Linked DNA regions of Homo sapiens. The protein of the gene in region 1 interacts with the protein of each later gene in a pairwise test. Each region holds a gene or a part of one and is shown in the gene's direction. Other genes may lie near its edges. The genes, in order: GAL3ST3 and RHBDD2.

Region 1 (6,758 bases):
TCCAGGCTCCCCCTCCCCCGTGGAGAAGGATATGTGTGAGGGCTGAAGCTAAACTTGAACCTGGAGACTGAGGCCCCACCCTAGCTTGGGGACAGGCATCACTGCTGAAGTGGACTTTCCACGGGAGCTGCCCAGGATTGGGCTGCCCTTAAGCCAAGGCATTCCTGTGGGGAAAGGAGACTTGTGTGTGACCAAGCCCTCCTCCCCTCTCTTACTCCTGGGCTTACCTGGGATGGAAGCTCACCTTCTCCTGGAGATCCTCCGTAGGGCAACAAGCAGGAGCCACCTCTTACCCAACCCACACCCCGCCCAGGCTGCCATCTCATTGCTTTGGTCAGGCACTTTTCCCTGCAGAGTCAGCTGATGGGGCCGCCTGGGTTTCAGGTGTCTGGGGATGGAATCCAGATAGGGCTCCAGGATTTCAAGACCTTCCTTTCCCTCATGAATTTCTCAGTCTTGGGCCCTCAGGGCAGGAGCCCAGCTAGGAGCGCTCAGGACTCAGAAGGATGCAGAATTGCCAGAGTCTAGGGCAAGGTTGGGGAAACCAGTTCTCTACAGAAATAGCATATACAGTGTCTAAGGGCATGGACTTTGGAGCCAGAAACAGCAGGTATGAATCTCATTTCTACTGTTACCAGCTGTGTAGCTATGGACAAGTGATATAATCTCTTAGAGCCTCAGTTTCCTTATCTATACAGTGGGAATAATACCTAGGTCAGGGCTGTGGTGAGGACTAAATGGGATTAAGTATGTAATAATACAGTACATAGAGTAAGCCTGCAGTATCGACTCAAAGCCATATCGATCCAAGGAGGTGAAGGCCTGATCAGTGTTTCCGAGGAGCTCGGTTTCTCTGGGGAGTCAGGACCAACCCTGGGCTAAAGCAATTGGGCAAGGAGTCCTGGAGGAGAGGAAACTTTGAGTTGAGACCTCTATGTTCTGAGCCAAGCCCTGGCGCTAAAGCCACTCCACTGGGGAGACATGTACAAATAACCATGAGACAAAGACGAGTTAGGAGCAGGCAGAGAGACAGAGACAGGGCTGAGGGATGGGAGTGGCTACAGCCTGAAGGGCTGGCTACACCCCAGACCCTGTAATTCCACCCAAGACTAAGTTATCTGGAGCAGTGAGGAGATAGGGTCTTGATAACGGGAGGTAGGAATCCGATCTGCCCTGGCCTCTCTGCTTACCCCACCTGTTGGAGCTCTTTGCATCAGACCTGCTGGGGGCCAGATCCCATCTCCTCTGCCCACTGCAAACCCGTCTGCCTTCTTCTGCCAGGCTTCTCGGGAACACTGGCCCTGCTACCAGAGCCGCAGGATCCCCCATGAGTGCCTGTGAAGGGAGTCCTGGATAGTGAGGCCCTGGCTGGTCCAGGGGTGGGTACTCCGCCATGCCACCCATCCTCCAGCGCCTGCAGCAGGCCACCAAGATGATGAGCCGCCGGAAAATCCTGCTGCTGGTGCTAGGGTGCAGCACCGTAAGCCTTCTCATCCACCAGGGGGCGCAGCTCAGCTGGTAAGGGGGCGGGGCCCCAGGGGGGCCGGAGCTCCCCTCCCCATTCTTCCACCTGCTAGAAGGGTCCTGCTAGGCTTTGCTCCTCCCCTCTATTCTGAAAGTGCTTTCCCTTTAGGGCCACACAGCCTCCCTGGACAGGGACTGCTCTTCAATGAAAGGGCTGAGTGACTTGCTCAAAGTTACAGAATCAGTTAGCTGAGATCCGAATCCAGCTCAACTCCCCACAGCATGCAGCTAAGCATTTCCCCAGTGGAAACAACTTCTCACAACTTCCGTAGTGCTGGGCAAGGCCAAGTCCCCTCACTTCTCCGAGCCCCCGTTTTCTCATCTATAAAGTGAGACATGATATGTGTGACACAGCCAGTCACCCTCACACAGGATACCATGTGATTCATGGGAACCCCAACCCTACTCCTGACTCACTGTGTGAACCCAACAAATCCCTGCACCTCTCGGAGACTTCATGTCCCCATTTTCTACACTGTCTGCCCCTGAGAATGGTGTGAATGCGCCCAGCCCCCCTTGCCAGATAATTTGGTTTGAAATCCCAAACACCCATGTTTTAAGAATGAAGCAACAGAAATGAAAGCTTCACGAGGGCTAGGATTGTTTTTGTATATTACTGTATTTCTTGAACCTAGCATTAACCTGGCACATAGTGGACACCCAAAAAATATTTGATGACTGAATTAATGAGGCTTTAGAAGCCTCAAGAGAAACATAACAATGGGTTGCTGCAAAGCCCAGTGCCAACCATCTACAAAGTGAGGAGCCAGTTAAAGAGTAAAAATGAGAAAGAGCAAAAGGATTTAGTGACCATGTGAGTCGTCTCCAGACTTTGTGTAAGTGATTGTTCTCCTTTTGGCCCTCAGTTTCTACATATACAAAGTGGGATTCCTCAAAGATCTCCAGGGGTCTTTGTCCCTTATTTATTTCTACATAAACAAATTATCTTAAAGCTTAGCAGCTGAAAACACAAACATCTGTTATTTTGGGTCAGGAAGCCAGGTGTGGCTTACTGGGAACTTCTGGACCAAGGTCTTTCATGGGGTTGCAACCAAGGTGTTTGCTGGTGATGCAGTCTCATCCGAAGGCTTGATTGGAAGGGATCAGCTTCCAAGCTCACTCACGTGGTTTTGACAGGCTTCAGGTCTTCAAGCCGGCTGGTGGACTGAGGGCCTTAGGTCCTTGTGGGCTTTTCCCACTTAGTGGTAGCTCCCTATAGGGCTGCCCACTATATGGCAGCTTGCTTCCCCCATCATCTGTCATCCCAGATTGAGTGAAAGACACCAAGATACTAGCCAGCCACAGTCTTTCTATGATGAAATTTAAGAAGTGACATCCCATCATTTCTGCCCTCTTCTCTTCTTTAGATGCAATGATAAGTCCAGCCTAACTCAGGTGAGGGGAATACTCAAGGGCATGAATACCAGGAGGGCAGCAGGGATCATAGAGGGCATCTTAGAGGCTACCAAGCACCGCCCTCGACCTTTCCATGAGTGCAGCCCAGGCGGGGCCGCGCTGTGGGGCATCCCACAGTCCTTGGGTAAGGGCAGGGGTCAAGCGGCAGCCCCCTCACACCCTCCTCTCCGCACACTCCCTGGGCCTGGCAGGTACCCCAAGCTGTTCCCCTTGAGCTGCCCTCCTCTGCGGAACTCGCCGCCGCGCCCCAAGCACATGACTGTGGCCTTCCTGAAGACTCACAAGACGGCAGGCACGACGGTGCAGAACATCCTGTTTCGCTTTGCCGAGCGCCACAACCTGACGGTGGCCCTGCCGCACCCGAGCTGCGAGCACCAGTTCTGCTACCCCCGCAACTTCTCGGCGCACTTCGTGCACCCGGCCACGCGGCCGCCGCACGTGCTGGCCAGCCACCTGCGCTTCGACCGTGCGGAGCTGGAGCGCCTCATGCCGCCCAGCACCGTCTATGTCACCATCCTGCGCGAGCCGGCCGCCATGTTCGAGTCGCTCTTCAGCTACTACAACCAGTACTGCCCGGCCTTCCGGCGCGTACCCAACGCCTCGCTCGAGGCCTTCCTGCGCGCGCCCGAGGCATACTACCGCGCTGGCGAGCACTTCGCCATGTTCGCACACAACACGCTGGCCTACGACCTGGGCGGCGACAATGAGCGCAGCCCGCGCGACGACGCCGCCTACCTGGCGGGCCTCATCCGCCAGGTGGAGGAGGTTTTCTCGCTCGTCATGATCGCCGAGTACTTCGACGAGTCGCTAGTGCTGCTGCGGCGCCTACTGGCCTGGGACCTGGACGACGTGCTCTACGCCAAGCTCAACGCGCGCGCCGCCAGCTCGCGCCTGGCCGCCATCCCCGCGGCGCTGGCGCGGGCGGCGCGCACCTGGAACGCCCTGGACGCCGGCCTCTACGACCACTTCAACGCCACCTTCTGGCGCCACGTGGCGCGCGCGGGCCGCGCGTGCGTGGAGCGCGAGGCGCGCGAGCTGCGCGAGGCCCGCCAGCGCCTACTGCGGCGCTGCTTCGGGGACGAGCCACTGCTGCGGCCTGCCGCGCAGATCCGCACCAAGCAGCTGCAGCCGTGGCAGCCCAGCCGCAAGGTGGACATTATGGGCTATGACCTGCCCGGCGGCGGCGCCGGCCCGGCCACCGAGGCCTGCCTCAAGCTGGCCATGCCCGAGGTCCAGTACTCGAACTACCTGTTGCGCAAGCAGAAGCGCCGGGGCGGTGCGCGGGCTCGGCCCGAGCCCGTCCTGGACAATCCCCCGCCTCGGCCCATCCGAGTGCTGCCTCGCGGCCCTCAAGGTCCCTGAGCTCCGCAGGCCTCCAGGAGTATGGGTCCTGCCCTGCCCTCCCAGGAGTCCAGCCAGGGGCTGCCTCCATGTCCTGCCCCCATGAGAGCCCTTTCTTTTCAAGGGGCTTGAGTCCCTCGCTGAACTTTGGGGTACGCCTCCCTATCTGAGCCCCCGCTCCCGATCGTGGGCTGAACCTTGCCTTCGGGCACGGCGCTGATAGGCTGGATCCAGCGCTGGGCCACCCTCTCCTTCCCAGCTGGTTGGTGATTTTGACAAGAGGCCTGAGGGCTGTCCAGAACTGCTCACCCTGCCTTTTTCTGGGGGCTGAGCCCCCACAACCTGTCTTTTCCAAGTGGATAAGCCCAGGCCCCATGGAGAGAGGCTCAGCCCTAGGGAAAGGCTGCTCTTGCTCTCCCTCCCAGGGCTTGAGGCTCCCTATACTTTTCTGTCTTCCAGGTTCTACCCTCCCCACAGACCTAAGCTGCTCCCAGTCTCCCAGAACCAAGAGTTCTTGGGTTGGGATTTTTGTTTGGTTGGTTTTTCTTTTTTTTAATAAAACATCTTTAAAATGTGCGAGTTGTATGTCAGTCATAGAAGCCGGATTCCCCACATTTGAGGATGAAACGGATGCCCAGGAGGAGCTGTGGCTGGACCCATGAGGATGGGGGCCTGGACTCAAGGTCCCCCGCCACCTGGCATAGGCCTACAACCCTCCTCAACCGCTTGACCGACTGGGCCCCCAACACAGACTGGCCACCTTAGCCCCACTCACTTTCCACATCGTTCTTTTTCACAAAATTCTGCGACATTTACTGAGCATCATCTCTGTAACTTGGGGATACAGGTGAACCAGATAGATAGGGCCTTATTTTCATGGAGCTTATGGGGAAACATTGGAACAGGAGCAAGACAGGTAAGCAAAGAGGAAGGACTGGAGGGGTTAGAGCACAACACCTCTTTGGGTGGAAGGAGGATCATTTTCAGATAAGGAGCTGCCTAACTCAGAATTTGACCTCCTCCTGTGAATCACTGACTTCACTAATGGCCTGCTTTCCTCACAAGAAGACAACTTGGACTCAGATGAAGACCAGTCCCTTTCTGCAGTTTCCTTTAACACAGCAAGATAGCCAGCACTTCCAGGTGAAATCTCCCTTAAGACTAGCAGAGAATTGGAACTTTTTCTGTTACTTTCTTCAGAGCTATATCGACGTATCTGGACAAGTGATAAAAAACAATAGCTATTATGGTCTACGGTGTGCCAGCCACTGTTTAAGGGCTTTATGTATGTTAACTTTGGAGATGGGTGCCGTTTTCCAGGTGAGGGAACTGAAACTTGGGGGAAATTAAGTCAGGGTCACACAGCCAGAAAGTGGCCACTAGGATCTCAACCAAGGCAGTGTGGCTTCAGAGTTTGTGCTCACAAGTGCTGTCTGTAGTGCCATTCAAATAAAAAAGGTCACATGCCACAAGCTAGGCTGATTCCCAGCACCTTCCCCCAAAAGAATGTAAAGGGAAGAACCAGGACACTGCTATCAGCAACTCTTTATCCAGTTTTTCATGGAGACAACGGTTGACCTGTTTGGACAATGGACATTACAGTGATTGATTGGCAGGATGCATGACACGCTGGGCTTGAAAAGGGACTGTTTGTATGGCACCCCACTTTTTACCAGCAGAGCTCTGAAAAAGGCAATAATTAGAATCATGCAAAAGCATAATTAAGTTTCTGACATTAAGCAGCAGTAAAGAATTGTACCAGACTCAAAGTGATCTATCCAAAAACAGGTGTCCTCTGGCCCCCAGCCAATAAGGTGCTTGCCATTGTCTCCATCTGCACCCCCAGCCCTAGCCTCTGGTCATACCTCTGCCAGGAAAATCCTTCACCTTGCCCTCAGTTGGCCTGGAAAATTCAGACGTGCCTTTAAGTCTACTTTTTTTTTTTCTAGACAGTCTCACTCTGTCACCCAGTCTGGAGTGCAGTGGTGCAATCTCGGCTCACTGCAACCTCCACCTCCTGGGTTCAAGTGATTCTCCTGCCTCAGCCTCCTAAGTAGCTGGGATTACAGGTGTCTACCACCACGCCTGGCTAATTTTTGTATTTTTAGTAGAGACGGGGATTGGCCATGTTGGACAGGCTGGTCTCAAACTCCTGACCTCAGGTGATCTGCCCACCTTGGCCTCCTAAAGTGCTGGGATTACAGGCGTGAGCCACCATGCCCGGCCAAGTCTACTTTGATAAGTGTCCTAGTTCATTATGTGTTGCCATAAAGGAGTGACTGAGGCTGGGTAAAGAAAAAGGTTTATTTGACTCAATCCTGATGACTAGAAAGTTCAGGATTGGTATCTGTATCTGGCGAGGGTCTCAGGCTGCTTCCGCTCGGGAGCCCAAGTATGCAGAGACCACAGGGTGAGAGAGGAAGCAAGGGGGTCAGAGGAGGTGCCAGGTCTTTTTAACAACCAGCTCTTGGAACTAA
Region 2 (8,011 bases), on another chromosome or scaffold:
CTGGCTAACATGGTGAAACCCCGTCTTTACTGAAAATACAAAAAAATTAGCCAGACGTGGTGGCGGGCGCCTGTAGTCCCAGCTACTCGGGAGGCTGAGGCAGGAGAATGGCGTGAACTCGGAAGGTAGAGTTTGTAGTGAGCCAAGGTCGCACCACTGCACTCCAGCCTGGGCGACAGAGCGAGACTCCGTCTCAAAAAAAAAAAAGAAATAGAACAACTTGGCCAGGTGCAGTGGCGCACGCCTATAATCCCAGCACTTTGGGAGGCCAAGGCAGATGGATCACTTGAGGCCAGGAGTTTGAGAGCAGCCTGGCCAACATGGCGAAACCCTGTCTCTACTAAAAATACAAAAATTAGCAGGGCGTGGTGGCATGTGCCTGTAATCCCAGCTACTGGGGAGGCTAAGGCAGGAGAATCACTTGAACCTGGGAGGTGGAGGTTGCAGTGAGCCAAGATCACGCCACTGCACTCCAGCCTGGGCGACAGAGTAAGACTCTGTCTCAAAAAAATAAAAAGAAATAGAACAACTTTAGAGATCTAATGACCCAAGTTCAAATCCTAGCTCTTCCACTAACTCACAGTGTGACCTCCTCACATCCTATTCGTCCCTCGGTCAATCTTATCTGTTTTCTTCATCAAAACCCTGCAAGATAAGACTTAGTTCCCATTTTATAGATGAGGAAACTGAGGCTCCCTTACCCAAGATCACTCAGGCAGCGAGTGAAAGAGCCAGGGTGAGGTCCTGCTTCCTCCTGACTTCCAGCCTGAGCTCCACCAGCTCCACACTGGCTGCTTCTCAAATGCTAATGTAGGAGCCATTAATGTCTCCTTTAAGGGAACATTAAAGGAAATGGCCAGTATAACATGGTATTTATCTCCTGGTTTTTGGCTTGGCTCATGCCTGGAATCCCAACACTTTGGGAGGCCCAGGCACGAGGATCACTTGAGCCCAAGAGTTTGAGACCAGCCTGGGCAACATAGTGAGACCTCTGTCTGTACAAACAACAACAACAAAAAGGCCCAGTGGGCTGGGCGTGGTGGCTCAAGCCTGTAATCCCAGCATTTTGGGAGGCTGAGATCTCAGGCGGATCACCTGAGATCGGGAGTTCGAGACCAGCCTGACCATCATGGTGAAACCCCGTTTCTGCTAAAAATGCAAAATTAACCGGGCATGCTAGCGCATGCCTGTAATCCTAGCTACTCGGGACGCTGAGTCAGGAGAATCGCTTGAACCGGGGAGGCGGAGGTTGCGGTGAGCCAAGATCACACCATTGCACTCCAACCTGGGGAACAAAAGCGAAACTCAGTCTCAAAAAAAAAAAAAAAAAGTGCAGTGTCTCACACCTGCAATCCTAGGTTTCCCTTAAGGGAAACGTGAATATCTCCTGCAACTGCCCTCTCCGAGCCTAAACCCTCTGCACAGCAAATGCAGAAAACTCTTTCTACAGAGAGCTAGGTGGGCTGACTGGCCATGCCATCCTAGACTGGTGTACCTCAGGTCTCCTCTTCAAAAAATATCTTGAAATTCTTGCCAGAAATTCAGTGTGAAATGCATTCGGGATGGTGGCTGTTGTTATAACAGTCCCCAGGGGTCTCAATTACGTGAGAACCCTCGGCTTCTGGACAAGAGACAAGGAAGGGAAGTAGGTCACATCCCAAAGGCATCAGGGCTAATAACTTTGCATTGAACATTTTCTGTGGCCCCACTGTGTGCTAGGTGCCAGGGCTGTGGATACAGACACAGGTATAAATCAGACATGGCTTCTGCCCTTGGTAAGCTCACAATTACGGGCACAAATATGCAATGATAGTATAATATGGGAAGTGCCTCAGGAGGCTGAGGCAGCGAACTGCTTGAACCAGGGAGGAGGAGGTTACAGTGAACAGACATTACAGCACTGCACTCCAGCCTGGGTGACAGAGCAAGACTTCGTCTCAAAAAAAAAAAAAAAAAATTCCTGGAAGACTTGTTGCCTAATTTTAAGTTACTTAACTTCTCTGTATCTCCATTGCTTCATCTGTAAAACGGGCGTAATTACAGAACCAGCCTCACAAGGGTTGTGAAAATGTAATGAGTAACTACATAAAAAGCACACAACAGGCTAGGCATGGTGGCTCACACCTGTCATCCCAGCACTTTGGGAGGCCAAGGCGGGACGATTGCCTAAGCCCAGGAGTTCAAGACCAGCCTGGGCAACAGAGCAAGATCCCATCTCTACAAAAAAGAAGCAGCTAGCTAGGTGCGGTAGCACGCACCTGTGGTTCCAGCTACTTGGGAGGCTGAGGCAGGAGGATACCATGAGCCCGGGAGGTCAAGGCTGCAGTGAGCTATGATTGTGCTACTGAAGCAGGACACACAAGCCCCAAAATTTAGCCTCCTTCCTTCAGAGCCAGCAGGAGCTTCTAAGCTATGGGGGGCAGCAGTTACAGCTGAGTCAAACCAAAGCCTGCAGCCAAGGGCAAGGAGCTGATAACACTAGGGTGGGTGTGTGGGGAAGGAGCCAAATACTTCTACCATGTGAGGGGAGGGAGTACTGGGCAGGGTCACTGGAGAAAGCGAAAAAGGTAGTACCCTTGAAGGTACTGCTGGGCACAGTGGCTCATGTCTGTAATTCCAGGACTTTGAGAGGTCAAGGCAGGCTTATCACCTGAGGTCAGGAGTTCGAGACCAGCCTGGCCAATGTGGTGAAATCCCATATCTACTAAAAATGCAAAAATTAGCTGGGCGTGGTGATGCACACCTGTAGTCCCAGCTACTTGGGACTCGGGAGGCTGAGGCACAAGAATCACTTGCATCTGGGTGGCAGAGGTGGCAGTGAGCAGAGATCACGCCACTGCACTCCAGCCTGGGTGACAGAGTGAGACTCTTGTCAAAAAAAAAGGAAGGTCTACCTTAAACAGCTGTTCTCCAGCAAAAGCACTTTTCAAACTGTAAAGTGCTGAAATAGATCTCGGTTATGAGTGTTCTATTACATCCCTAACTTTTGAGTCCCTTCCATTGAATCCCTCTCCCGTTTCCTGTCCCTTTTCCTTTTTTTTTTTTCCGAGATACAGTCTTGCTCTGTCACCCAGGCTGGAGCGCAGTGGTGCGATCTCGGCTTGCTGCAACCTCCGCCTCCTGGGTTCAAGCGATTCTCCTGCCTCAGCCTCCGGAGTAGCTGGGATTACAGGCACGCGCCACCATGCCGGGTTAATTTTTGTAGTTTTATTAGAGACGGGGTTTCACCATGTTGGCCAGGCTGGTCTCTAATTCTTGACCTCGTGATCCGCCCGCCTCGGCCTCCCAAAGTGCTGGGATTGCAGGCGTGAGCCACCGTGCCCAGCCTCCTGCCCCTTTTCTTCAATATGAAGATAAAGCTGCCCCTGGCTGTACTGGAGGCCAATTCCGGGCCATAGCAGGAGGAACTGAGTTCTAATTCTGTCTTTGCCATGTAACTGAATTACCCAGGGCCCTCCCTAGTCCTGTTTCCTCTTTGGTGTAATAGGGATGAATACAGATGGGAAGATCGTGATATGAAAGAGTTCTGTGAGCTGTAAGGCATAATAATCATGAGGTATTATTACAGGACCAACAGGTGCCTAGGCCCGCTGTGCAATAACAGACCAGTTACACTGAGGAAGCAGGGTTATCAGCAGAAAAAGGGTTTAAAGATGGCAGGGTGCCTAGGAGGAGACGCAGGGAGACCAACAAATCCATCTTCCCCAAGGAGTTCCGGGCTGGGATTTTAAAGGGCATTGTGAAGGGTGAGGGGCTGGAAAATTGGGGTCATCGACTGGTCAGGGTAAGGGGGTTGAAATCCTCAGGATATGGAAACTGCAGTCCCCATTGAGTCTTGCTTCTGTGGGCTCCTTCAGAACAACTGGTGTCAGTAATTATGCTGGTATGCGGGACCTGAAAGAATATCTCCAAGGGAAAACGTTTCATAATGTTCAAGTTGTTATCTATGGAGTTAAGGGGAATTGTAATCTTGTGACAGGGTCTACGTGATTCTAGGACAGACGATGGGCACCTATCATAGCTGATACACAGAGCTATGAGCAAGCAGGTCGGAGAGCAAGGTGACCTAGTGATGAACGCAGAGTGTGCTGCAAGCTTCGTTTATTTTCGTTTTTCCCCCTCCCTTCTTCCCTGATTAATTTCCTAAAGTTTATAGGAGCAGTTTCAGTACCAGCCCGAGTAGGATGGAATCAAACACGGTGCTGGAACATTCCTACCCGGAAGTGGCCCCGACCCCCCTCCCCCCGTCCCGGCCTCCCACGCACGGGGGGGGGGGGGGGGGGGGCTGATCGGCGCTACCGGATTGGACAACTTGGCATGGGGCGGGGCCTCTGGGAGGCGTGGCCTCCGGCCGGCTCCTCTGCTGTTGCCAAGGGAAACTGCCGCGAGGAGGCGGAAGGAGCAGAGGACCGGCAGCCGGCGTCGAGGCGGGGCGCGGGAACGACGGCGGCCATGGCGGCCTCGGGGCCCGGGTGTCGCAGCTGGTGCTTGTGTCCCGAGGTGCCATCCGCCACCTTCTTCACTGCGCTGCTCTCGCTGCTGGTTTCCGGGCCTCGCCTGTTCCTGCTGCAGCAGCCCCTGGCGCCCTCGGGCCTCACGCTGAAGTCCGAGGCCCTTCGCAACTGGCAAGGTGAGCAGGGGCGGGCCGGGATCGCGGGGCGAGTCCTTGTCCTCCGACTTTGCCGGTTCCTGGGCTCTAGCCTCCGGGACTCGCCCCTTCAGGCCTCACCGCCAGTCTCCCCCTGTCTCGGTCCTCATCACCATGCCCGCCCCCCGGAGGACCGACCTCCAGCACCGTCTCTTGCTCTCCGTGTTCCACACCTTTGTCTGCAGACCCCATCTTCGTCATCACTGTAATCCCTTCCCTACCCGAATTTGTTCCCTTCCCTGTCGCCACCAGACTGGTTAAGGCCCCAAATCCATTCGCTAGCAAATCCATGCTCGCTCTCCAAGGGTAAAGATTTTTCGTCTCCCCCTCCCATTTCACATACACACCTACGTCTGCTTTAGGCCTAAGCCCCACTGAAAAACGTTTTTCTCTCACCTACATCACGACAATTGGACTTTATCCACAAACCCCTATAAGCCCTATAAACGTCCTGCCCTCTTGAGATTTGGAATTTCTTCTGCTTTTTCATCTGTATCTTAATCTTGACTGCCATTCCCAGCTCATGGGGGTACCAGGGTGTCTTCTGCCTTTGGAGAGAAGTGTTTGTTTTTCTCTAGGGGAGAGAAATTTTGCAGACCAATTAAGTATAAACATCCATTCCTGAAAGACATTCCTAGTCTCCGTGTCTTCCTCATTTTCTCGAGAGGAACACAGGAAATTTGCATATCTCCTGCTGTTTTGCAAAGCACACACACTGATATGTATTAATTTCGTTTAACCCTCACAAGGATCCCATGACGTAGGACCTGTTATTGGCCCGTTATCTAGATAAGATTGAGGTTTCATGCAGAGAATCGCAGAGCTGTTGCGTCATGCAATTGAGATAGGAATCTATATTTTTTTTTTTATTCTGTGATGTTTTGGAACTAGAGCCTTCGGGTAGATAATCTCCAAATCATGTACAGTTGCTTCTAGAATCTTTTCATGTTTATACTTGGAATTTCAGTTTTGGAAATACTCAACAAATAATGAAGTACTCTTCAGATAATGAAGCCTCTGGTGATGGCCAGACTGAGGTATATGGTTCCATAGCCTGCTTCCCCACTCCAATCTAAAACTGTTCCCCCCACCCTAGGTATACATAGCACCACCTCACAGACAGAAGCAAAATGCCAACCTAACCTTAACCTCCCACTTTCTGGGGTTCACTGCTTCCCTGGGTGTGGGTTTCGTGGATATGTGAGCGTTAGAGACGTAAGGGACCTTTGAAGTCCTCAATCTAACTCTTGTTACTTTACAGTGAGGAAACTGACGCCTAGAGGACCTGTGACATGATTAAACTCAGCCAGCCTGGATGTAATAGAGCCAAGATTCCACTCCAAGTCTTTAGACTCCCAAGTCCAATATTACCATCAGTTCTTTGGTCTCTCTCCTTGAGTTTAGTCGTATTTGGGCATGCAGGGACATAAAAATACTTAAGAGATAACCACTTCTAAAATTTTTTTAGAGATAGGGTCTTCGTCTTACCCAGGCTGGAGTGCAGAGATGCAATCATAGCTCACTGCAGCGTTCAACTCCTGGAATCAAGCGAGCCTCCTGCCTCAGCCTCCCAAGTAGCTGGGACTACAAGTACACATCATCACACCTGACTAATTTTTAAATTTTTTTTAAAGACGGGGGTCTCACTATGTTACCTAGGCTGGTCTTGAACTCCTGGGCTCAAGTGATCCTTCCACCTAAGCCTCCCAAAATGCTGGGATTACAGGTGTGAGCCACCATGCCTGGCGATAACTGCTTTTAGAAAAATAAAAGGCCAGGAATGATGGTTCGTATGTGTAGTTTCAGCACTTTGGGAATTCAAGGCAGGAGGATCACTGGAGGCCAGGAGTTCAAGGCTAGCCTGGGCAACGTAGCAAGACTTTGTCTCTACAAATAAAAATTTAAAAAAAGGAAAAGGAGGATTCTTTGATGTCTTATTACATATAAAGCATCAGTTTACCTGTGAGATCGGATAAGCACTTTCTGAGGAGACTTATAATTTCTATAATCTTTATTGTTAATGATAGTGTTATAATTCTTACAGCTGCAAAATAATTCATGGTCCCTTTTTTCTTCCTCTGAACAGCCACTATGGAAGGAGGGGTCAGGATTACAGCAGAGGAGACTGGCACACAGAGTGTTAAGTGACACCCACTCAATCCACCCCGAAGCTGTTACACTTAATTAACCCTCAAACTGCCCAGTGAGGTAGGTCAGTATGAAAACCTGAAAAAGGATTATAAAGCACTTTACAAATTCAGAGACTGCCCTCTACCGAAAAGTATTATTTTTTTCCCTCTGGAAGTCAGTTACCGCTAAGAGTTGCACCAGGCCTGGGGAAGTGTAGGGATTAGATATTCATGCCTCTCCTTTGAGGCTCTGGGTCCTTCATTGTTGAACGCACTGCTTGTATTGCCTCCTGCTGCGACTCACTGGCTCTCACTTCTCTGTCACGGAGGGGGGCTCTCTGCCTTTCCTAGGCGGCTTATAACCTGGCTTCCCTCCTGGGAGCAACCCGCCGCCAGGCCTCTAACCCGACTCCCTCTGCAGTTTACAGGCTGGTAACCTACATCTTTGTCTACGAGAATCCCATCTCCCTGCTCTGCGGCGCTATCATCATCTGGCGCTTTGCTGGCAATTTCGAGAGAACCGTGGGCACCGTCCGCCACTGCTTCTTCACCGTGATCTTCGCCATCTTCTCCGCTATCATCTTCCTGTCATTCGAGGCTGTGTCATCACTGTCAAAGCTGGGGGAAGTGGAGGATGCCAGAGGTTTCACCCCAGTGGCCTTTGCCATGCTGGGAGTCACCACCGTCCGTTCTCGGATGAGGCGGGCCCTGGTGTTTGGCATGGTTGTGCCCTCAGTCCTGGTTCCGTGGCTCCTGCTGGGTGCCTCGTGGCTCATTCCCCAGACCTCTTTCCTCAGTAATGTCTGCGGGCTGTCCATCGGGCTGGCCTGTATCCTTCCTAGCAGAGAGCTATAGAACAACGCATGTCAAAGGGTGAACCAGGCTGGAGGGTCTGGGGTGTCAAGTAGATAAAATTGGGCTTACTTTGTATTTTTTCGAAACAGAGTCTCTGTCACCCAGGCTGGAGTGCAGTGGCAGGATCTCAACTCACTGCAACCTCTGCCTCCTGGGCTCAAGCAATCCTGCCTCAGCCCCCTGAGTAGCTGGGACTACAGGTGTGCACCACTACACCCGGCTAATTTTTATATTTTCTTTTTAGTAGACACAGGGTTTCACCATGTTGCCCAGGCTGGTCTTGAACTCCTGGTCTCAGGTGATCTACCCACCGTGGCCTCCCAAAGTGCTAGGATTACAGGTGTGAGCCACCGTGGCCGAGTCATATCTGATCATAATT

Evidence for each region.
Region 2: the proteins of GAL3ST3 (region 1) and RHBDD2 interact in binary tests that used the Homo sapiens proteins (3 or more experiments, as listed by UniProt).

Annotation. Positions count from the first base shown.
Region 1 is NC_000011.10:66,040,051-66,046,808, reverse strand, and holds the end of GAL3ST3 (galactose-3-O-sulfotransferase 3), read left to right. Parts: intron 1-1,281; 5' UTR 1,282-1,393; coding exon 1,394-1,518; intron 1,519-2,891; exon of another isoform or gene 2,892-2,940; coding exon of another isoform or gene 2,941-3,131; coding exon 3,132-4,302; 3' UTR 4,303-6,044; downstream 6,045-6,758. UniProt on the Homo sapiens protein: Transfers a sulfate to position 3 of non-reducing beta-galactosyl residues in N-glycans and core2-branched O-glycans. Has high activity towards Gal-beta-1,4-GlcNAc, Gal-beta-1,4(Fuc-alpha-1,3)GlcNAc and lower activity towards Gal-beta-1,3(Fuc-alpha-1,4)GlcNAc.
Region 2 is NC_000007.14:75,874,631-75,882,641, forward strand, and holds the start of RHBDD2 (rhomboid domain-containing protein 2), read left to right. Parts: upstream 1-4,403; 5' UTR 4,404-4,452; coding exon 4,453-4,630; intron 4,631-5,615; exon of another isoform or gene 5,616-5,685; intron 5,686-6,734; exon of another isoform or gene 6,735-6,860; intron 6,861-7,198; coding exon 7,199-7,606; intron 7,607-8,011.